Regions from separate parts of the Homo sapiens genome. Here region 1 is linked to region 2. Evidence: fine-mapped expression QTL. A gene starts in region 2. The other region holds a variant in brackets. All regions are shown on one strand. Distances are from middle to middle. Region 1 has its middle 90 kb from the start of MIR548P. Region 2 holds the start of FAM174A (family with sequence similarity 174 member A).

Region 1 (11,619 bases), 190 kb after region 2:
AAGCCTGGGTCTTTCAATGGCCATTTTGGCACTAGGAAATTTCCCTTCAGAGAATGAAGCCAACATAGATGGCAGCAGGGCCAAGAGATGGAGAGAAAAACATTTTCTGTCAATATTATTTAAGCACTTGATCCAGATATGCTATAACTAAAGTTCAAAATATTTCTGGACATTCATTTTGTGATGCAATAATGTCCACGCCATGCTTTATTTTTTCTTAAGCCATTTTGATTTGGAAGATTACTACTTTCAACAAGCTTCAAATATTTTGCATTCCTAGTTTCATTATTTCTAAAATTGTGTATTTTAATTTTATTCCCAATTTATCTCCCCTTTTACAATGTTACAGTGCTGTGATTTTTTTGATGTCCCAATTTTAAAACATCTCTAAAAATTGTTTCCCTTGAAACAAGAAAAATCTTGTTGTATTTATTTATTTACTAATCAATTATAGTTGGGTTACAACAATGCATTATATTAGATAAATAAATAAAAATATAAGAATAATTATGTGGAATGGTGAACTGATTGAAGAATAGTTCCTGGCTTTGGAATCTAAAAACATCAATCTCATAGAAATAGAGAGTAAAAAGGTGGTAGAATGGTTTACCAGAGGTTGGAGTGGTTAGTGGGGGATAAGGAGTTGGGGAATGTTAGTCAAAGATACATATATATAGTTAGATATGAGGAATAAGTTCAAGGTCTACTGTATAGCATGGTAACCAGTGTTAATGATGATATATTGTATTTTTTAAAATGCTAAGAAAGTGAATGCTAAATGTTCTCACCACAGAACTGATAACTATTTGAGGTAATTAATTTGTTAATTAGATTTCACCATTCCATAATGTATATATACTTCAAAACATCATATTGTACATAATAAATACATATACATTTATACATCAATTTTTTAAAAAAATGATAAATTTCAAAAAAAAAGTCCCTGGTTGAAATATTAATGAATGTGGTGAATTAATATTTAGCTATTGTTTTAAATAACATAGCCCTATCTTATTGTTTAGAAAAAAATATAATAGTTGTATTGGCTGCATACTGTTTTTCATTAACAAACACCCGTGCCAAAATGTCAACGATTTATAGGCTTATATCTCCATTTTGTATATGAGATAAATAGGTCAAGTATTCGAATACCATATAGAATCAAGGTCTTTAGGTTCTTAATTCAACACACCTCTAACTGCAACACAAAGAAAACATTTGTTTGACATTGGTAAATCAAATAGAAATATCCTCACAGAAACACTGAATCTAACCCATTCCATGTCTATCATCTTATCTTCAAGCTATATAGCTGAGGGCAGGGTCAGAAGCTGCCATGCTGTGTTACATGACAGGAATAAATAATGCAGAAAACTTGTTCATTTATTTAACCTTCAACTATTTATAGAAAGCAAATTACAACATGACAGGCACTATTTTGGAATGAAATTTCAGTGCATTGGTAAAGAAGTCTGACTCTGTTTTTAAGATGAGCTTCTTCTTTCATATTTCTCTATTATTACTGTATCAACTGAAAAAGGGTCTATTTTGTTATTCAATTATTCCTGGTATGTGAGCCTAATTCAAAGATTTAGTTAACTAGGAAATCAAAGGGACCATAGAAGGCCTTGAATAATACATGAGTGAGTTTTAGAGTGAAATAAAACTATAAAGGTAGTGTAACATCTTGTCTGAGTTACAGTGATATCAGAGAACACACACAGACACAGACACACACACACAAACATTTTTTGCCTGGGTTTCTTCCCAGGTGAACATACTGTTAAGTCTCTCATATGAAAGACGTAGTTTACCCTAGCTTTTGAAGATTTGAGGCTGCTTTTTGAAGTTGAGGTAGGCACAATCTTTCTGCTTAAAAATTAGAATAGGAGCAAAGTATGGATAAGTATAGCAAGATGTTAAACCAAAATGTCATTTTTCATCTACAAACAGAGAACTTGCTACAACCTTAGCACTCAACCTTCCAAATGATGCCAATTATGTTCACCCACCCTGCTGTGTTCTTAAAAGGAGAAGCACTAGGGGGATCAAAATTAAAACACTTAATTATTTTGTGTTTTAAATGTGAACTCTCTCTAAAAAACAGCAGGTGGATCTTTATCACATCCACTTAAGTCCCTTTGGTCCCTGGACAGTTCCACTAATCATTTGAGTTTAAATACTTTTGAATTGCCTTCATTCACACTACAAATATCTTCACCTTCTCTTGGAAGGGGGCTGCATACTTGGTTACTATTCAACCACTTATCTATTGATGTTACTGCCTGAGAATTAAAGCTCCCTGGAGTTGGCTGATGAGCTTTCACAGAGAGTAAATGTGGCAACAATCCTGCAAATTAGGGCTAAGAGGAAATGGAGGCTAGAATCAGTTTCCAAAGGCATTTCTTAGAATTTGCAGAATTGCCATTATAGGAGGAATTATCTTCAGTAGAGTCAAATTTATACTTAACAACATGAAAAATCTTCTGAAATCTTGATTATCCCAATGTCATTAGCAGAGAATGCCAAGGCATGTAAATAGACTATGATAACTGTAGAGAATCTCCTGACTTAGAAAAACATCCAAATAATTCTGTAGATTTTTAATTTATTTATTTCAATTGTTTTGTATTCTTTTATCTTTTTTTGGTTAAAATCATACAACTTTTTTGTTTTCTGAGCATTTTGACATCTACTTTGTAAGTTCTTTTATACTTATAATAATGCCTTGAGTCAGGAAACAGTAATTATCTCAGTTTTGCAAATAAAGCAAAAGCATAAAAAGTCACCTTGGCCTTCAGATGAGGGCATGCAATTAATTAATGCAGAACTGAAACTAGAACATAGACAACAATTGTTATCCCAGCCCAAGACTTTTCTACTAAAGTGTGTGACTTGTACATTTATTCTATGGTCATCACAAAAATACATATGCAGTGCAAATACATAAAAGTGAATTCTAGTTGCTGAGGTTGGGGGAAGACTCTAATTAGATGATCTGGTAAGAGTTTTATAAGGAAGGAAATTTATTCTGATTAGAAAAAATATAGGTACAAATTGAGACATATTAACCAATTATCATAATTGCCAATAAAATACAGTATGTAGATGAAAGGAATCTAGGTTAGCTGGAAAAATGAGACAAAAGTGGAATGGTGGGGAAGCATGGGAGGCAACGTGCTTCTTCATAACATCAAACTTTCTTTTCCAAATAGTTTCTGACCTTTGTAATTTGTGGTAGTGAAGGGTCAGCAACAAAGCATCAAAGATCACAGCACAAAGGTAAAGTGATTCACCCTGCTTTTTAATCCTTAGCACCGAACTCTAAGATCTTCTAATTAAAGAACCAAGATAGGCATCTACTCGACCCTCACTTTGACATCTTCAAATTTAAAGCAATTCAACTCTCACTCCCACACTCAGGTTAATTTTCACTAGAAGAAATAATGTTGACAGTTTCAGAAAGTCAAGCTAAGCTTATGTAAGGAGAAAAAGAGTAAAATGTTCTTTTTTTACTGATGGATGTGTCCTCCAAGATATGATTTCCCAAGAGTTCTAGGACTTGCTTCCTTGTGCCAGAGCATACTGCACAGTGGGGGTTTCAGGGCACAAGGTTGAAGTCAGAAATGTATACCTAGCCCCCCTCCCAACCCTTATACCACTAATTGGCTCTATGACTTTGGGAAAAGTACTTAAACATCTCTGAGACATGGCTAATTCTTCAATAAAATTGAAATAATAGTAGTACTTAAAATTTAGATTGTTACTGGTAGTGGGCTAAATGATGTCCGTTAAAGAGAATACTCTTGTTTTAATCCCTAGAACCTGTGAATGATATCTTATTTAGGAAAAAGGGGTATTTGCATGTGAAGTTAATTTAAGGATTTTAAGATAAGAAAATTATCCTGGATTAACTGGGTGGGCCTTAAATCTAATATGAGTATCCCTACAAGAGACACACAGAAGAGAGTCATGCAGAAGAGGAGCAAATAATGTGACCATGGAGGCAGAGATTGACGTGATGTGGCCACAAGGGAGGCAACACCTGGAGCCACCATAACATAAAAGAGGTCAGGAATGGATTCTCTCTTCAAGCCTTCAGAGGGAGTATGGCCCTACTGACACCTTGGTATTGGACTCCTGGCTTCCAGAATTATGAAACAATAACTTCGTGTTTTAAGCCAAGTTTGTGGTAACTTAATATAGCAACCAGAGGAAAGTAATACATCATTCAATGAGATAATTGTGAAGAATATACTTAATACATGGTCTAGAACATAGATGTTATTGATAAATAGAATTTATTATTTATACAAAACCTGAGCAGTGTGAGACCTAGAACCAGTGCTAAAGGATATTTGTACTCAGAGAATGGGTTTCCATTTATCGATTAGTTTCTATGAGCCAATTATTCTACTGGGTGTTATGCATGCATTATATAGTTTCTCCTTCTAGTTATAACAAAAGTAAACACTGATTTCTCTTAACAGACATGGAGACTGCAACTCAAAATATAAAATCACTTACTCAAGACCTTATAATTAGTAAGATAATCAAGATTCAAACTCAGATCTGTCTGTAGGAAATGTATTTACTTTCTTTTTTTCATGCTGCCTCTACAAGGTACGGTGTACAGAAGTGGTCAGTGGGTTATAGGGGAAGGCTAAGCCGCAGCCAGCAGTTCTGTGTAATAGTTTATCAATTTTAAGGGTCTTGGCACAGTGAAAAAATCAAGAAATGAAGCAATGGAATAGATAAAAGTAAGAGAATTAGAATGATGTAATAAAAGAAAATTGGAAACATTTTCTAAACAAATGACAATATTGGTAATTGGAGGAATAATCAGTTATTAAAATAGCTTGGACACCACGGCAGGCAGAATTGTAAAGTGAGCCTCAAGATTCAGCTTCTTGTGGCATATGCCCATGCCCCGTATAATGACACTCTGGAGTATGGTGAAAACTGTGAATATGATACGATGTTACTCCTGTGATATATAGGGCAAAGATAAATAGATTTTGCAGATGAAATTCAGGTTGATTTTTAGTTCAATGAGATCAGCTGATTTTTGATTAAGCAAAAGAAAGATCATTCTTGGTGGGCCTAATTATTCAAATTAATGCCCTTAAATGAGCAACTGCGCCCTTCTTGAGATTGGAGTGATTCTCCTCCTGGTCTTGAAAGGGCCACATGGCACAGAATTGCAGGTGACTTCTGTGAGCTAAGAGTCACCCCAGCCAAAATCCAGCTAGAAAACAGCCACCTGAATCTTACAATGCTAAGGAAATACATTTTATCAACAACCTGAATAAACGTGGAAGCAAATTCTTCCCTAATGAAGCTTATTGATGTCAAAGCAGCCTGGTAGAGATCCTGAATGCAGCCTTGTGAAACCCTGAGCAGAGAACCCAGCTAAGCTGTGCCTGGACTCCTGAGGCACAGAAACAGTTATATAATAAGTGTGTGCTGTTTTAAGACACCAAATGTGGTAATTTGTAACACAGCAATAGAAAACAAATACAGACAAAACAAATACTCTCAAAATCAATTTTTTATTTAAATCTATAATTTCTATGAGAGAAATCAGCACTGTGCTACAAACTAGTCTACATCTTGCAGGGTTTACCAGTAGTTATGGACACTTACGTTTTTCTACTCTCTGCTTTATTCTCAGAAATATTCATACCCTGACTTCATACAGTCACCATACTTCCTTTCACCCACTGTATATGTCTTTAGCACCTTCGCCTACAAGCTGAGAAATCTGGAAGCCACCTTTACACATAGTTGCATGAGCACACACATATGTGTGTGCAGATAAACACATATGGGC[A/ACATG]CATGCATGTACACACACACAGAATTTAGCAATGCACACTACATAAACACAAACTATCATTCCTGTCTGATAGCACATAATATGCCTCTTTTTTTTAACCTTTATAAAAGCTATCTTATTCCTTATCTAATTCCTTTTTCTCTTTAGTACTTAAAATACACTTATGGCCCAATATACCTCTGTAGTTACATAGTAATGTACTTTTAACAATTTTATCACATCATAAACTAGCATAGTGACAGTACTTTAATGTTCAACTGCTGCATTATTAATAGAAGAGGTTTTGCCTTTCCAGAAACATCCTGAATTTGTTGTGTTCCATAGTCATTATAGCCCAATAAATATGATGTGGGTCAGATTGGAAATGCAAAGAATTTGGTGAACTCTGAATGTATTAGGTGCACTTTGAACCATTTACTGCCACAAACACAATGATGCTATTTCAAAAGAAGCATATTAGAGATTGAAAGCAACTCTTCTTAGTACTATAAATGGTTACCCTGTATTGCAGTAAAAATAACAGATTTATTGGCAAAACTTCTACCTTGTTAATTTTATATTTCAATTTTCCAAGCTCCGGTAGCTGAATATAGATTGATATAGCTTAAGCTTAGACTAATGATTAAAAGTTCAGCATGTAAATGCAATCCAGATAGTTTATTTATGACTCAGACATATTAATTTGTCAAGTTGGGTTCAAAATGCTTCTCTATCTGGATCAACTTAATATTTCCATATATCTTTATATAATAGGCTTAAATATTGCTGAATAAAGATGACAGCTTAATTTTGATTTGCAAAAATATTTTACACAAGTAATTTACAAAGTATGAAACAAAAATACATAAATAATATGAATAAAATAATGCAAATAAACTAATAGTACAAAAATCCTCTAATTAATACATAAAGGAGTATTTAGTCATCCTATCAACAAATATAAAATTCAAGTGAGAATATGTAAGCCATCATTTATTTACTATCAAGTTAGCACATATTTTAAGAATTATAATAATCAGTTTTAATATAGAAATGATGAAATAGGCAACCTGTCTAGCAAGTATGTATCAAAATATTTCAAGATCCTGGAAAATATGTAAACTTTTGACCCAGGTATTTCAATTTTTAACTGTAATAATAATTTCCAGAAGATGTTGCAGCAAAGTTATAAAATGATATAGACAAAGAATATATGGGCAAGGCAAATCTATGCCCAGTTTAGAAAAATAATCTCTTTGATTAAATAGGGCATAATTCAATATATACTACGTTATTCTTAACAAAGACAATCAGTGGACATATATAGCTATGTATATATTCAAATATGAACATGAGAATATTTTGCTTTATGATTTTATGGTTATTTCAATTCCACATTGTTATTTTTATTAACATTTGTCTTTATTTTGTGTAAGTAGAAATATAATGTATGTTAGCTGTAAAAAATATTGAAAATACAGCATCAGAGAGAAAATGTACCAAAGAAAAGATAAAACCTTCTGTTTTAATTTTAAGTTAACTTTGCACTATGAAATATATATATGTACATACATATATATACATGTATATATGTACGTACATGTATATACATATATATGCACATGAAAATGTATATAAATACATACATATATCTACATGTAATTGTATTTAATTTTAAGTTAACTTCGCACTATGAAATATATATGTATGTACATATATACATGTATATATGTACATACATATATAAATATAAGGATAATGTATTATATATAATATAAAATTATGTACATATATGTATATACATATATATGCACATGAAAATGTATATATGTACATACATATATGTACATGTAATTATATTTAATTTTAAGTTAACTTCACACTGAAATATATATGTATACACATATATACATGTATATGTGTATACATATATAAATATAAATATTATATATATAATATAAAATTATGTACATAATACATATACATGTATATATATATTTCATAGCGCAGTTAACTTAAAATTAAATATAATTATATATAATTGTATATACTTTTATATATAATTTTATATAAATATATAAATTATATATAAATTTTATATAAATATATTCTATATATTATATATTATATTATATATAATATTTATATATGTATATACATATATACATGTATGTATGTACATACATATATATTTCATAGTGTGAAGTTAACCTAAAATTAAATATAATTATACATAATTTTTTATTATATAATATTTATATTTATATATTATATATAATATATATTTATATGTTTATATATAATAATATATATTTATATGTTTATATATAATAATATATATTTATATATTATTTATAATATATTATATACAATTATATATATAATTTTAACAGTTTTATATAAATAATATAATATATAGAATTAAATATATATAATTTTTATGTAAAAAATTATATATATAATTTATATATTTTTTATATATAAAAATTATATATATATAATTTCCTACCCATTTGGAAATATTTTATTTGGAATTCTGACATTGGATTTGTTACATGAAAATGACTTTTGGATTTTTCTAAGTGGTATCTTATACAGTCTGTTTAGATAGATAACATTTTGAAATTTTCCTACATCTTGGTCTGCTTAGGTAGACATTTGACTGATACATGAATATAGACATTTTTATCTATGATTTTGTTACTGAGCTTTCTTCAAACTGTTTAAATAGTTTGGTGGTAGATTGAAAGTAGAATGAGACCTCATGTGCATGTTTGTCTCCAGAACCCTCGCCAGAGCATATTTAGGGGAAATAATATTTTTTAGGAATTTTAGCTTCTTCTATTGTTTATTCTATCTGTAAATTTGACTTATCTGAAAATAAATTGAGAATTTAATCCAAAACAGACTTTAATGGAGGTTTTCAGTGTGAGATTTGTCTTCCTCACTCCTTTTCTTCTTTTTCCTTCATTATCCCTGTTTCTCCTCTCTGCATTTCTCTCCCTCCCTCTTCCTTTTGCATGCATTCAACTACTTATAGTAAACATACACCACGCACCAAGTATTGTGATAGGAACAAGGGGTATAAATATGAGCAAGGCAGTTTTGATCTGTCCTGCCAAAGCTTAGAATGTTTGATTTTAAAACAAGCATTTACATTAAAGTGTGGTAAGTGATACAATAAAGAAAGAACAGAATGTTGAGGAAATACCTAGTAGTGTCTCTTAATACAGTTGAAAGTAAGGAATATTACTCAAGGAACAATGTCTACAAAAAGTGATATTACGGCTAAAAGTTAAAGAATCATTACAAGTTAGGCAGACAGTATTACTACTCTACAGGAATGGAGTCAGTTGCTTATCTAGGTTTTTACCCCATTATATTGTTGGCTCCTTTTTGCATGCTCAGTACCTACCAAAGTATCTGGCACACAGATGTTGTTGAATAAATGTTTGATTAATTAATGCAGAAATATAAAAATGAATACTATCTTGATAAAGCACTATTTGATATATTTGTTTGTAAGTGACACAATGAAGAAAACAACATGGATTTCCAGAAAAATTAATACATCATCTAAATTCCAACTGCTAATCTTAGGTTCTCCATTTTCTACTGTTTTGTTGTTTCTTCTCTTTTTTTAATTTTTAATATTTTATCCCTATTATTGGACCCAAATCAGCATACATTTGATTTTAAACTTGACTTAACATAATTTATTAAAACTTCAATACTTCTTCAAATTTGAATGACTTATTTTATGTATAATTATGTAAAACTACAAACTTGTAAAATCTTCTGAGTTAACACTGGCCATTTACTTTTGCCTATAGAGAAATTAGTCCAGTAAAAGTCAACAGCAGCATATAAAGAAATTGCCAAAATGCTTGAGTATTAAATAACTACCTTGGGTATTGCTTAAGAAAAACCTGCATTCTCAATTCAGCATGCATATGGAATATATGCAAATTTATCTTGTTTTCTGTAGAGACCATTTAACTAAAGAAGAATGAAAATAATTTAAAAACTTACTCAAAATTCATCTGGTAATATGAGCATATAATACATATGAAGTCATTAGACTAATAAATTCATAAGTAAAAAATAATAAGTAAGCTAGAAAACAACAATGCTAATTGATATAAAACACCAAGGCAACAGAGTATTTAAAATGTCATTCAAAGTTGTTGGAATGTGGTTAAGAAAATGAGCTTCAAGATCTAATTAAGAACTAAGCCCAACATGATCCCATAAGTATTTTTATGCTTGAGATGAATATTGGAAATTTGTTTATATTAGTTCAAATTGGTCTAGTATCTCATTTCCTTGTTATTGCATATTCTCAATTATCTGAGAGCTTAAATGTAGGAAAAGGAACGGTGAAACCCCGTCTCTAATGAAAATACAAAAAATTAGCCGGGCGTGGTGGGGGGCACCTGTAGTCCCAGCTACTTGGGAGGCTGAGGCAGGAGAATGGCATGAACCCGGGAGGCGGAGGTTGCAGTGAGCCGAGATCGCCCCACTGCACTCCAGCCTGGGCGACAGAGAGAGACTCTGTCTCAAAAAAAACAAAAAACAAAAAACAAAAAACAAAGGTGGAAAAAGGACATAATTTAATCAATACTTTCAAACATATCTTCCAAACCAAGTTAATTATGGAAAACTTCAGAGGCAAATATCTATGCTTTCTATCAAACTTTGAAAAGAAGGAATCTAGTTTGCTTCAAAAAACAGAACTGTATTTTGCTGAATAAACCAAGTTATTTTCAGGAAACAGAATATGTAACACTCACAAACACTGAAACACACACAAGAAGTGGCACGTCATATTTTAGAAAATTAAAATATGTACAAAATTAGTCTTTTGTAAAAATTAGCTCCTTGATAAAACTTGGAATTTTCAGGAAGGGTTTTTAGAATTTCAATATTTACTTGCTTTAATTCTTGTGCTCTTGTCATTTAAATAGGATAGTGAACTATAAAAGTTCAACTTAAGAACACAAATTAATACCTTACCAAAAAATAGTATATTAACTATTATCCTCATATAAATTAGATATCCTCGTTTAAATCAACTATCTTCACATTCTCATCTAATTTGTATTATTTGATAAAATTTATAGAACATGATAACCTAAATAAAAATGCAAAGGGGAAAAAGATACATAGAGGTATATTATAATTTATGAAAAAGTCGATAACACTTTTTTAACCTAAAATATACTCAAGTTGAATTATCCTTGCCACTCTGTGGCAGAATATATAGTGTAGAAGAAACAGTGCAGAAAAAGGAGATCATGAAAACAGATGTTGGAAGGGTAAATTGGAATAATCTTCCAGATCATTCACTATCAAATATATTTTCAGAGCTTCTCTCTAAAGGAAATAGACATGGGATCATATTCTCCAAGTACATGAATGTATCCATTATAGGAACACGGACTCCTAGCACAGCCACCCTAGAATGGAGAGTCAAGTAGTCCCGTGGTTTAGAATTTGTGCACTGATGGGAGAAGACAGGGACAGGAAGAAGAAAGAGCAGCCTTTCTAACTGATCTGGCTGCTATGTGGTCCAACCGTGTTTAAACAGAAAGTGCAAGGTAAACAAGATTTTTGTGGTTTCACTTTGATGGAGGAGTACCTCTCTTCTATTTCTGCTAAAATTCTCAATCTCTGTCGAGTAGAAAATCACCGGTTTCTGTGGAAGTAGTTAAAAATGCACGAAGGTGCTGAACACACAAACAAGCAAAAATAACAGAATATCACAATACTCTTAAATACAAAATAACTGTATTTCTACACAC
Region 2 (11,619 bases):
CATTTCTCAATTTTTGCTTTGGTTGCAATTGCTTTTGGCATTTTCATCATGAAATGTTTGCCCGTGCCTTTGTCCTTACTGGTACTGCCTAGATTTTCTTCTCAGGTTTGCATAGTATTGTTTTACATTTAAGTCTTTAATCAATCTTGAGTTAATTTTTGTACATGGTGTAAGGAAGGGGTCCAGTTTCAATTGTCTGCATATGGCTAGCCACTTCTCCCAGCACCATTTATTAAATAGGACATTTTTTCCCCATTGCTTGTTTTTGTCAGGTTTGCCAAAGATCAAATGGTTATAGGTATGTGACCTTATTTCTGAGTTCTCTATTCTGTTCCATTGCTCTATGCATCTGTTTTTATACCAGTACTACTCTGATTTGGTTACTGTAGCCTTGTAGTATAGTTTGAAGTTGGGCAGTGTGATGCATCCAGCTTTGTTCTTTTTGCTTAGGATTGTTTTGGCTATTCAGGTTCCTTTTCATTCCATATGAATTTTAAAATAGTTTTTTTTTTTTTTACATTCTGTGAAGAATGTCAGTGGTAGTTTAATAGAATTAGTATTGAATCTATACATTACTTTTGGCAGTATGGCCATTTTTGCAATATTGATTCTTCTTATCCATAAGCATGGGATATTTTTCCATTTGTTTGTGTCCTCCCTGATTTGAGCAGTGGTTTTGTTTCTCCTTGAAGAAGTCCTTCCCTTCCCTTGTTAGCTGTATTCTTAGGTATTTTATTCTTTTTGTGGCAATTGTGAATGGAGTTCATTCCTGATTTGGCTGTTAGTGTATAGAAATGCTAACAATTTTTGCATTGATTTTGTATCCTGAGACTTTTCTGAAGTTGCTTATCAGTGTAAGAAGCTTTGGCGCTGAGACTATAGAGCTTTCTAGATACAGAATCATGTGATCTTCAAACAAAGGTAATTTGACTTCCTCTCTTCCTATTTGAATACCCTTTATTTCTTTCTCCTGCCTAATTGCCCTGGCCAGAACTTCCAATACTCTGTTAAATAGGAGTGGTGACAGAAGGCATCCTTGTCTTGTGCTGGCTTTCGAGGGGAATGCTTCCAGCTTTTATCCATTCGGTATGATATTGGCTGTGGGTTTGTTATAAATGGCTATTATTATTTCAAGGCATCTTCCTTCAATATCTAGTTTATTGAGCATTTTTAACATAACGGGATGTTGAATTTTATTAAAGGCCTTTCTACATCTATTGAGATAATCATGTGGTTTTTGCTTTTAGTTCTATTTATGTGATTAATTACATTTATTGATTTGCATATGTTGAACCAACCTTGCATTCCAGAGGTGAAGCCAACTGGATCGTGGTGGATAAGCTTTTTGCTGTGCAGTATTGGTCTATTCTGAGATTCAAGTTCTTCCTGGTTCAGTCTTGGGAGGGTGTATGTGTCTAGAAATTTATCCATTTCTATGAGATTTTCTAGTTTATGTGCATAGACGTGTTTATAGTATTCTCTGATGGTTGTATTTCTGTGGGGTCAGTAGTAATACCCCCTTATCATTTCTGGTTGTGTTTTTTTGATACTTCTCTCTTTTCTTCTTTATTAGTCTAGTCAGCAGTCTATTTTATTACTTTCTTCAGAAAACTAGTTCCTGGATTCATTGATTTGTTTAAGAGCATTTTGTGTCTCTATCTCCTTCAGTTCAGCTCTAATCTTGGTCATTTCTTGTCTTCTGCTAGCTTTAGGATTTGTTTGCTCCTGGCTCCTAGTACTTTTAGTTGAGATGTTAGGTTGTTAACTTGAGATCTTTCTAGCTTTCTGATGTGTTCATTTAGTGCTATGAAGTTCCCTCTTAACACTGCTTTAGCTGAGTCCCAGAGATTCTGGTATGTTGTCTCTTTGTTCTCTTTAGTTTCAAATAACTTCTTGATTGTAGCTTTAATTTCACTATTTCCCCAAGAGTCATTCAGGAGCAGTTTGTTTAATTTCCATGTAGTTGTGTGGTTTTGAGCGAATTTCTTAATCTTGAGTTCTAACTTGAATGCACTGTGGTCTGATAGACTGTTATGATTTAAGTTCCTTTGCATTTGCTGAGGAGTGTTTTACTTCTGATTATTTGATCAATTTTAGAGTAAGTGTCATGTGGCAATGAGAAGAATGTTATGCTCTGTTGTTTTGGGATGGAGAACTCTGTAGATATCTATCAGGTCCACTTGATTCAGAGCTGAGTTCAGGTCCTTAATATCTTTGTTAATTTTACGTCTTGATGATCTGTCTAATATTGTCAATGGGGTGTTAAATTCTCCCACTACTATTGTGTGGGATTCTAAGTCTCTATGTAGGTCTCTAAGAACTTGCTTTGTGAATCTAGCTCCTCCTGTATTGGGTGCTTATATATTTAGCATAGTTAGCTCTTCCTGTTAAACTCTTCACCATCATGTAATGCCCACCTTTGTCTTTTTTGATATACTCTTTTTTAGCACTGTGCTAAATTCTGAGTATTGAGTAGTGAATAAATGAGATTGACCCTTGCTTCATAGAACTTAGGTTCAAGTGGTAAAAATAATCACACTAATTTTGGAATCTTAAGTGTGTGTTATAAATGAAACATACAAGATCTATACTACAAATTTTGTAAACTGCTGTTTTAGGTAGAGTGGACAGGATAGTTTGTCTCTTAGCTGCTTTCAGGGAGCAGGGTAAGGCAGTTGCTTCTGGCTGGCAGAACTGCAAGGATTAGGCATCTTAATGTTGAGTTTCAGTGTAAAGAAGCCCATTTGTGGTACACCCTAGTGTCAGCTTCCAAATGGCATTTATCAGTAATAAAATGCCCTTTTGATTTCCCATCTTCCTTACTCAGAACTTCATTCCACATTATAAATGGAATAGAGTTAGTATTTAATGCCTCTCCCAAAAAATAGAATAGAGTTAGTATTTAATGCCTCCTCCCAAAAAAGTCCAACATTCAACTTGTCAAAAAAAAAAAAAGGAATGACAAAAAAGAAAATGTGCATTATCTTTCCTTCCTTCCAAAATCTGATTTTGTCATGTTCTTCATCTTGATTAATGGCATTATCATTCTCCCAGATGTGCAGGCATAAAACCTTGGTATCATTTGTTACCCCAAATTCCCATCTGCAGCAGTCCTTGGCAATAACTGGGACATGCAAAGAGCTAAATGATTCTGAAATCTTAGAATCAAACTATTGTTTCCAAATGATTAGGAAAGCTATGTTCTAATGTTTCTCAAAATGCAGCTCTCAATTACCCAAAACAGAATAAGAAAGGGAATTTGTTAAAATTGGAGATTCTAGATCACTATTTTAGAAATTCTGGACAGAATTTTTGGAAGTGGAGACATGGACTATATATGCATTTTTAACAAGCTCTCAGAGTGATTTTCATGTACACTGAAATTTAAGAATCTCTTTCCTTTCCCTTACTACCTGCATCCAGATATTGTCATATCCTGTCCATTTCCCTAACTTTTTTCCCATTAATCCAATCCTACAGGCCTCTATAGCCCTAGGACTATATACTAACCTGCTTGGTGCCCAGCACTTTCTACCTTCACTTAAAATGGCTATATTACTGCCAGGATAAACTTTTTAAGTACAGATCTCTCCTGATATAGCAACCAACTAACTAAACAACAACAACAAAAACAAAATCAGATTTTTCAGAGATACTCAATTCTCAACAAAAGTGATCTTAAGCAGGCAACATACCTGGAAGTTACTGTGCTCTTTTTAGAATACCATATTGTTTGTAAAACATCATTATATAATGACATCTTGAAATCTGTCATGGGAATGAACAAAAATTTTCCTAGGAGAAGATACTGTGTTTTGTTTGTGCAATAGAAAGTTACAATTTTGAGCACAAATATCTATGTGAAATACAATCTTTCAAACTAAGTAAAATTAGTTGTTTATGAATTTTTCTCTTAATTTTAATATACTTGTTCATTTACTTGTTATCAATTGGCTTGCAAACAAGTTGTACCAAGCACAGGATATAAAAAAAAAATACATAAATAAGGGGAAAAAATCTCAGAATGAGAAATTTGTATCAGGTTACTGCCACATTATTATATTCTCCTAATTAATACCATGATTTGATTCTAGCTTCTTAATCAACTATTGCTAGAATAATGTGGCATAATCAATAACCATAGAAATATCAGTGGCATACAGCAAATAAGCATTTATTTTTCACTTCTTTGGTCAAGCTGGGGTTGACTAACTTAAGCTAACCTTGGCTGCATTTGGTGCCAGGCTATAGGTTTAGTCATAGTTTACGCCAGATATCCCACAGTCTACTAGGATCAGAGGACTAGCTGGGTCATATTCTTTTCAAGGTTAGGGCCAGAACTTTCTGTGCAGAGAGGGCAGGCAAGTGAAAGGGGGAAAGGAATAATGAGAGAGGTAGGTGTGTGTATGCATGTGTGTGTGTTTCTGGCTCTCTCTCTGTATATATCTACCTGTATCTGTCTCTCTTTTAGCAATGAAAACAATAACTTACTCAAAAGACCCACGTATACCCTTGACAGGCATCTCATTGGTGAGAGGTACATCATGCGGCCACTTCTAGTTATCTGCACAAATTGAAGTTCCATATTACTGAAGTCAAACAGGCAAGGAAGACATTATTGAAGACTACTGCTGTTGGGAAAGGGGATAAAACTCTTCTAATCTCAACTCCTCTAAAAGAAAAAAAGGAGTGGAGAGTTATTAAGAGCTATTTTGGGAAGATCACCGGCCACCTGAGTTTGCTGATTGACTTTACCCAAAGGAAAAGTAAATTTTCTCCTCCATGACAGGAGGTGGTTTTACAACTTGAAGCGAGAAGCCTACAACAGTTAGGTTCCTTTCCTCTCACACAAAATAAGAGATGGCCCACTACCTTCCTTGCTGATTATATTTCAAAGGCATGATGGCTTTCCATACCCTTGAGATAGTTTTCAATTATATAACTGGCCAGAAGCTTTAAAAAATATTTACATCTGAAAAGGGAAGAGAAATAACTTACAATGGTAAAGTTTTCTAAAGTAATTTTTTTTAATATACTTTAAGTTCTAGGGTATATGTGCACAACGTGCAGGTTTGTTACATATGTATACATGTGCCATGTTGCTGTGCTGCACCCATTAACTCGTCATTTACATTAGGTATATCCCCTAATGCTATCCCTCCCCCCTACCCCACGACAGGCCCCGGTGTGTGATGTTCCCCATCCCGTGTCCAAGTGTTCTCATTGTTCAATTCCCACCTATGAGTGAGAACATGCAGTGTTTGGTTTTCTGTCCTTCTAATAGTTTGCTCAGAATGATGGTTTCCAGCTTCATCCATGTGCCTACAAAGGACATGAACTCATTACAAGCAAATGCTCTTTAGAAAGGGAGGTCAGGGACCCATAGGCAGGAAAAAAAGCCTGCTTAAAGCTTGTAATGAAGCTAAGGAAAACTAAGCCCTTCTGGCTTACAGATTAAATGTGTTATTGCAGTTTGACACCAATGAATTCAGATTATGAGTTTCCAATCTCTCAGGGTTCCTGCATGAGAGAGTTGCTGTACATTTTACACAATCTCTTTTTGTCTACTTACTTTCTTAATACGCATCCTTGACCGCTCCTCACTAACAGTGAAAAGAACAATGCTTCCAAAACGGTCACGTCCTCGCTTTTTACACAAGTGCGCGTGCGCACTGGGCGCTAGGCCTCTGACGTCACCAAGTGCATCCGCCCCTACAAGTTAGCAACCGAAGGCGTCCTTAGCAGCAGTGGCCGCTGAGATGTACGAACTTCCGGTTCTCCGGGCAGCTGCCACTGCTGTAGCTTCTGCCACCTGCCACGACCGGGCCTCTCCCTGGCGTTTGGTCACCTCTGCTTCATTCTCCACCGCGCCTATGGTCCCTCTTGGAGCCAGCGTGGCGGGCCTGGCGGCTCCCGGGTGGTGAGAGAGCGGTCCGGGAACGATGAAGGCCTCGCAGTGCTGCTGCTGTCTCAGCCACCTCTTGGCTTCCGTCCTCCTCCTGCTGTTGCTGCCTGAACTAAGCGGGCCCCTGGCAGTCCTGCTGCAGGCAGCCGAGGCCGCGCCAGGTCTTGGGCCTCCTGACCCTAGACCACGGACATTACCGCCGCTGCCACCGGGCCCTACCCCTGCCCAGCAGCCGGGCCGTGGTCTGGCTGAAGCTGCGGGGCCGCGGGGCTCCGAGGGAGGCAATGGCAGCAACCCTGTGGCCGGGCTTGAGACGGACGATCACGGAGGGAAGGCCGGGGAAGGCTCGGTGGGTGGCGGCCTTGCTGTGAGCCCCAACCCTGGCGACAAGCCCATGACCCAGCGGGCCCTGACCGTGTTGATGGTGGTGAGCGGCGCGGTGCTGGTGTACTTCGTGGTCAGGACGGTCAGGTGAGGCAAAGCCTCGGTGGGGCACCCCCGTGGGCCTGAGATACGCAGGCCGGTGATCTCCAGCAAGGCTGACTTCTGTGACCCTTTCCCCCTTCCCCAGCATCAGGGACTCCTGCTTAAGAATATGATATTGACTTTCTTAAAGGCCTGTTACCTTTGGAGCAATTTAAACCTATAACTAATTGCTGCCTTTTGTTTATAAATGAGTGCCCTACCTCCAAATCTCTTCATCTGACCTACAACCCACGTCAGCCTCAAAGGGCACCCTTTCTCTGAAGTGAGGATAATCTTTATTCCCTAGAATTTTGACTACTCTGTCTTGTAATACTTCTACCTTTCTAGTCTAAATTTTTGTATACCTAACTGGTCAAAATTTTGCCAATCAGAATGCAAACTCTTTAAAGACAGGATATCTATTTAGTAGGTTTGTGAGTCTTACAAATTATTTGTACAATGCTGCCACTTAATAGGAAATCAATATATATTTGAGTGGATTAATAGTAATATAGAGGTGCCTTATGGATATTTTATTTTTATAAAATTCAGGAGAAGAAAAGTTCTTCCTTACTATCAGTGTTTCCTAGTATTGCCCTTTAATCTGCCACCTAAGTGGCAGAGAATCACCTTCCTGAAGAGTTGACATACAGAGCCAAGACCTCACCATTAGGAGAAGCCAGCAAAGAGATAAGGTGAGGGAAAGCTGTCTAGCAGTTTATTTCATTATAAAATAAGTGTAGAGGGTAGGTTTGCAGCTTATGTTTGTTTATTGTTTTCAAAATTCACGTTTTTCCCATAAATACCCTCTGTATTGTAATTTAACATATTTCTTTAAACTGATTATTTAAAGCAAAAGTTTCCTTTTAAACAAGTCGTTATTATCATGAATGGAAAACCAACATCACTTGGCTAGTTAAAAAATAGTGTAAGCCAGTGGTTCTTGACATGTGGGCCAGGGAACCACACAGGTGGGAGTTTCACTTAGACCTCTTCAGGGCATCTACAGTATTAAAACTATTTTCAAAATAATACATTCTGTTACAGGCTTATAGGGTACAAGTAGTTCATTGATATTGTTTCAGATTCCACATTGCAACTAATCTTTAAGAAACTGCTTGTCAAGTTTTGGTGTAGTAGTATCATAAAGGAATAACCACTCATATATAAAAAGGCTATTAAAATGTTTCTTTCCATTCCAAGTTTATATCTGTGCGAAGATGGAATTACTTTGTATGCTTCAACCAAACAACACATTGCAAAGGATTTAATGCAGAAGTAAATATAAAAATCTATCCATTTCCTATTTTTTGTTTCTATTTTTTATCTACTCCTATCACCTTAAGCCAGATATTAAAGGGAATTGGAAATAAGAATCTAAATGTCATTCTTTTTACGTTTTTTTCTTTTTTGAAAATATAGTTGTTTTTCATAAAAGTTATGTTAACTTGTAATGTGTTTACTATTATTTTAAATCAGTTGATAAGTATAGGTTTTCTCAAGTTTAATTAATATGGTAAAGTTGATATGTGTAATTCACATAAATATAAGTTATTTTGGGTTCCTGAACAATTTTAAGAATGTAAAGAAATCCAAAACAGCAGGCGTAAGCAATATTTGAGAACCACAGCTGTAAGAAATATTATTTGAGCTAGATATTGTTGGTTCACAAAGGCTAGCAAATCTGCACTCACACTCTAAGTGTTAAAAGCATATTACCACCAAACTGAGACTTTCTTCTTAATATAAAGAAAGATTAAAAGAATATTGAAACAAATTATTTTCCTCACTATATAACTGTTATTTACTGCTGTCTGTACATAGTTCCTATAAAAATGCATGGCCCCTTGAATGTTGTATCTCTTATACATAAAAATGATAAGTATAATGATAATTTGGGGGGAATATTCCTTCCTTGTTTTTTTCCTTTTGCTTCCACCTTTTTAATTATTTTAAATACACATATTTATTACCATTGATTTTCTGTCATTAATGTTGTAAAACTTGGACAGATACAGTCCTTCCAATATGATCCTATTGGATGACTTGGTAACATGATGTGTGTTAACAGCCAAATTCTGAACTATGGCTAATAAAAAGTGCATTCTTTAACCAGCATCTAACATATTCATGCAGTCCAAGTCCTACATTTAGTTGGCTGCCTGGCATCCAAAGCTTGAATGATGCTAACAATGTCTGGGCAGTGTTCCGAACTCATACTTTTTGCTTCCAGATTATGGTTTTCTTCATTATCTTGGTGAATGCTCATTTTGGCTCCCATTTTCAAACTATGTGTGACAGTGCACTGAAATTAGTTATTTGTGCCAAGGGAGAAGAATGGGCCAAAATCATTATTTTCTTAACTGATTTGAGGTGATGCAGAAAATATTTTACTTGTAAAATTTTATTACATTGAACTACATGAGACTTTCAAATAGTTTTGTTTTTATCTAATTCATTTATAATGAATATGTAGGTAATAATAACTTCCTTTTTGAGTCTGGAAACATTCCAAAGAACAGTCAGGTTCTCACTGTAGAAATACAAAACATATATATATATATGTAAGTGTATATATATATATGCAAGGAACACGGTAGGGACAAAGTAGATTGCCTAAAATGAACACTTAATCTCTATGAAAAGAGACTTTTCTGTCTTATTCTCCCCTATATCCTCAGTGCTAAACATCATGTGCAATATATGATGGGCACTGAATAAGCAGTTGCCTAATGGATGAGCACTCTTCATGTATTATATTGCTGAACAGGTAGGTGGTAAGGATTTGGAAATTTAAGGATAATTGCTGTTTACTGACGGAACAAAGAACTGCGAAGATCTCAATTAATACTTTTATTTCCTTCCTCTCAGTAGGACATTCTCTCCACAGTAAAATGTATAAGGCCAGGGAGCGGGGGTGGGGGGAAATCACTGTAGATGGTTGTTGGTTTTAGCACGTATGGTAATTATATAAAGCAATTTTTGTCATAGCTGAATAATGATTCTTGCCTTAAAAGCAGGGAATTATTTCCTTTTTCATGCCATGTCGTTGGTTTTTCGTTTTTTATTCAATTTGGTATATTGGAAGGAAATCGATGCTTAAAAGTTTAACCCTCTACTTTTTTTAAAAAAAATCTCTATGCTCTTTAGCAAGTCTCTTCCAATTTCAAGAAAATATGGTGCTCATGCTCATATAGTGGAGATGAGCATGAAATTTATTATGATAGCCTTTATTTAAGCAGTCAATATTTATTCAACTGACCAGTACTGGGCACTGGGGATACAGTTTTGAGCAAAACAAACATTTCTGCTTCTATAACACTTATATACTAGAGGAGCAGAGGGGCATTAACCAAATAATCACATAGATAAGTACATAAAGGATGCTATGAAAAGGCATTAAAATGCAGATCCTATTAATACATATTATATAGGAAATAAAGAATATTAATTTAATTTGAATGCTTACCCAACCCTATACGCTAAGACACAACGTTAGGTTTTTTCAAAGAACCATACTTTGTAACTGAAAGATTATTTTTGAGCTTTTACTTATCATCCTAATAGCTGATAGTTAATTGATAATTTATGTGTCAGATATAATACCGCATACTTTATGTGCATTTTGAAATTCTTGCAAAAACCTTCAAAGTAGGTAATATCATTCTTACTGAGGAAATTTAGGCTGAGCAAGTTTAAATAACTTGCCCAAGCGTGCACATACAGGACCTGCCCAAACCCAGCTCTGCTGGAACTTACCTAACATGTTCAACCATCATGCTGCTTCCTGTGATCATTTAAAGTAACCAATTTAAAGCGATATTGCACATAAAGATGGCTAGCTTATTTATGGAGAAAAATAAAGTGGATAGTATATGCCCAGTGCCTTTCTGTTTAAAACACATGATTTTGTTGGATGTTAAACCTCCAAATTTTACCTTTTTGAAAAGTGAGTTAACATTTATTGATCATCATATTTGTGCCAAGGTGAAATAATTTTGTTTCCTACCTCAACTCCCTGCATTCCTTCCCTCATCCAAAGATTTTCCTGATTTACTACACATAGTCAGGGAATGGTAATATTTTAAAGAAACGTCTGTTAATATGGTCACACATATTTCCACCTTAGTGGAGCAAGTCACTAATGATTTATGCATGTGACTTTAATCACCATTTCTCTTTTGTCTGGTTACTTAAGAATATGAGTTGTTTTCTTTTTCTCCTAGAAGTCTTGTGGTACCAGCCCTATTTACAAAATTATAAAACATCCATAGAAATCACTTAATTTAAGCAAAACCAGGAGTACTTTTGACTATTTAACCATTTATGTATTTAGTGACTGTCACTAATTCAGTAAATATTATTTACCACCTATTGGGTGCCATTACTAAGCTCTGTGATGAGGGTTAGTAGTGCACAAGGAAAGTCCCTGCATTCATGGAACTTCCATTATAATTGTTCATATCTCCTTGGAAAGTGGAGTTTTCCTAACATGTGTAAATTGTCCTGGTTTGCCATTATTTATTTAGCTAGTCAGTGTATATCAAATGTTTTCTATATAAAGAGACCCAGAAACTTGGAAATGTATTTAACAAGTACTAGTTCGCAAGTAATGAATATTTTTTTGCAAAGGTGAAACTTCCCTTCACAAAATGTTTACTCATACACCTAAAATATTTTAAAGTGTCAAGTTAGTTTGCTATGTGGTCAAGTGCCAAAATACCAAGATGATGACATAACTGATATGTCAGGGATCATAATCCCTGATATGATTATCATATCATAAGTGAAGTGATAATAGAATGCTCTGTTTTTAAGTGATATTTGTTATGTGTGCAGTTCTGGGAGGTAAAAGTGGAGATGTACTAGTTTGTTGGGGGCGTTGAGGCCAGAGCAATGCTTGCTCATGTAATGCCACATATAGACATTGATATCTATACGGGGTAAATGTATGAGACTACCTGCCCTGATACTATCCACCTTAGACACTGCCTAGTGATCTCAAGAGCTGAGGAGATCTTTGCTTCACCACATCAATAGCCATTTGCTTGTATGACACCCTGGCTCAGGAGATTTGTAGGACAATGCTGAATGTGGACTATGTAAAGTAGTTTGACAAGTTATCATATGGGCCACCTTTAAGCCCACACAAATCTGTTTCTGATAAATTTGAATGACTGTTATATCTCTCAAACTTCTGAATATTAGGGCTTCAAAGATAATAAAGACATCATATTTGTGTTCAAGGA

The links. PIP is the estimated chance that this variant, and not a neighbour inherited with it, causes the effect.
Region 1: its variant is fine-mapped to the expression of FAM174A in whole blood (INTERVAL, PIP 0.97).

Annotation. Positions count from the first base shown.
Region 1 is chr5:100,720,588-100,732,206 of GRCh38, forward strand. No RefSeq gene overlaps it. Among named protein-coding and RNA genes, the nearest start is that of MIR548P, 90 kb to the right of the region's middle. RefSeq lists an enhancer at 1,888-2,531. The variant A/ACATG (reference allele first, on the strand shown) is at 5,837.
Region 2 is chr5:100,529,589-100,541,207 of GRCh38, forward strand. FAM174A (family with sequence similarity 174 member A) reads left to right here and starts at 5,786. Exons shown (of 3, transcript NM_198507.3): 1 at 5,786-6,376. The coding sequence starts at 5,943. It overlaps FAM174A-DT (FAM174A divergent transcript), which reads right to left and starts at 5,655. Exons shown (of 5, transcript NR_172939.1): 1 at 5,573-5,655; 2 at 4,492-4,564. RefSeq lists an enhancer at 5,745-6,044.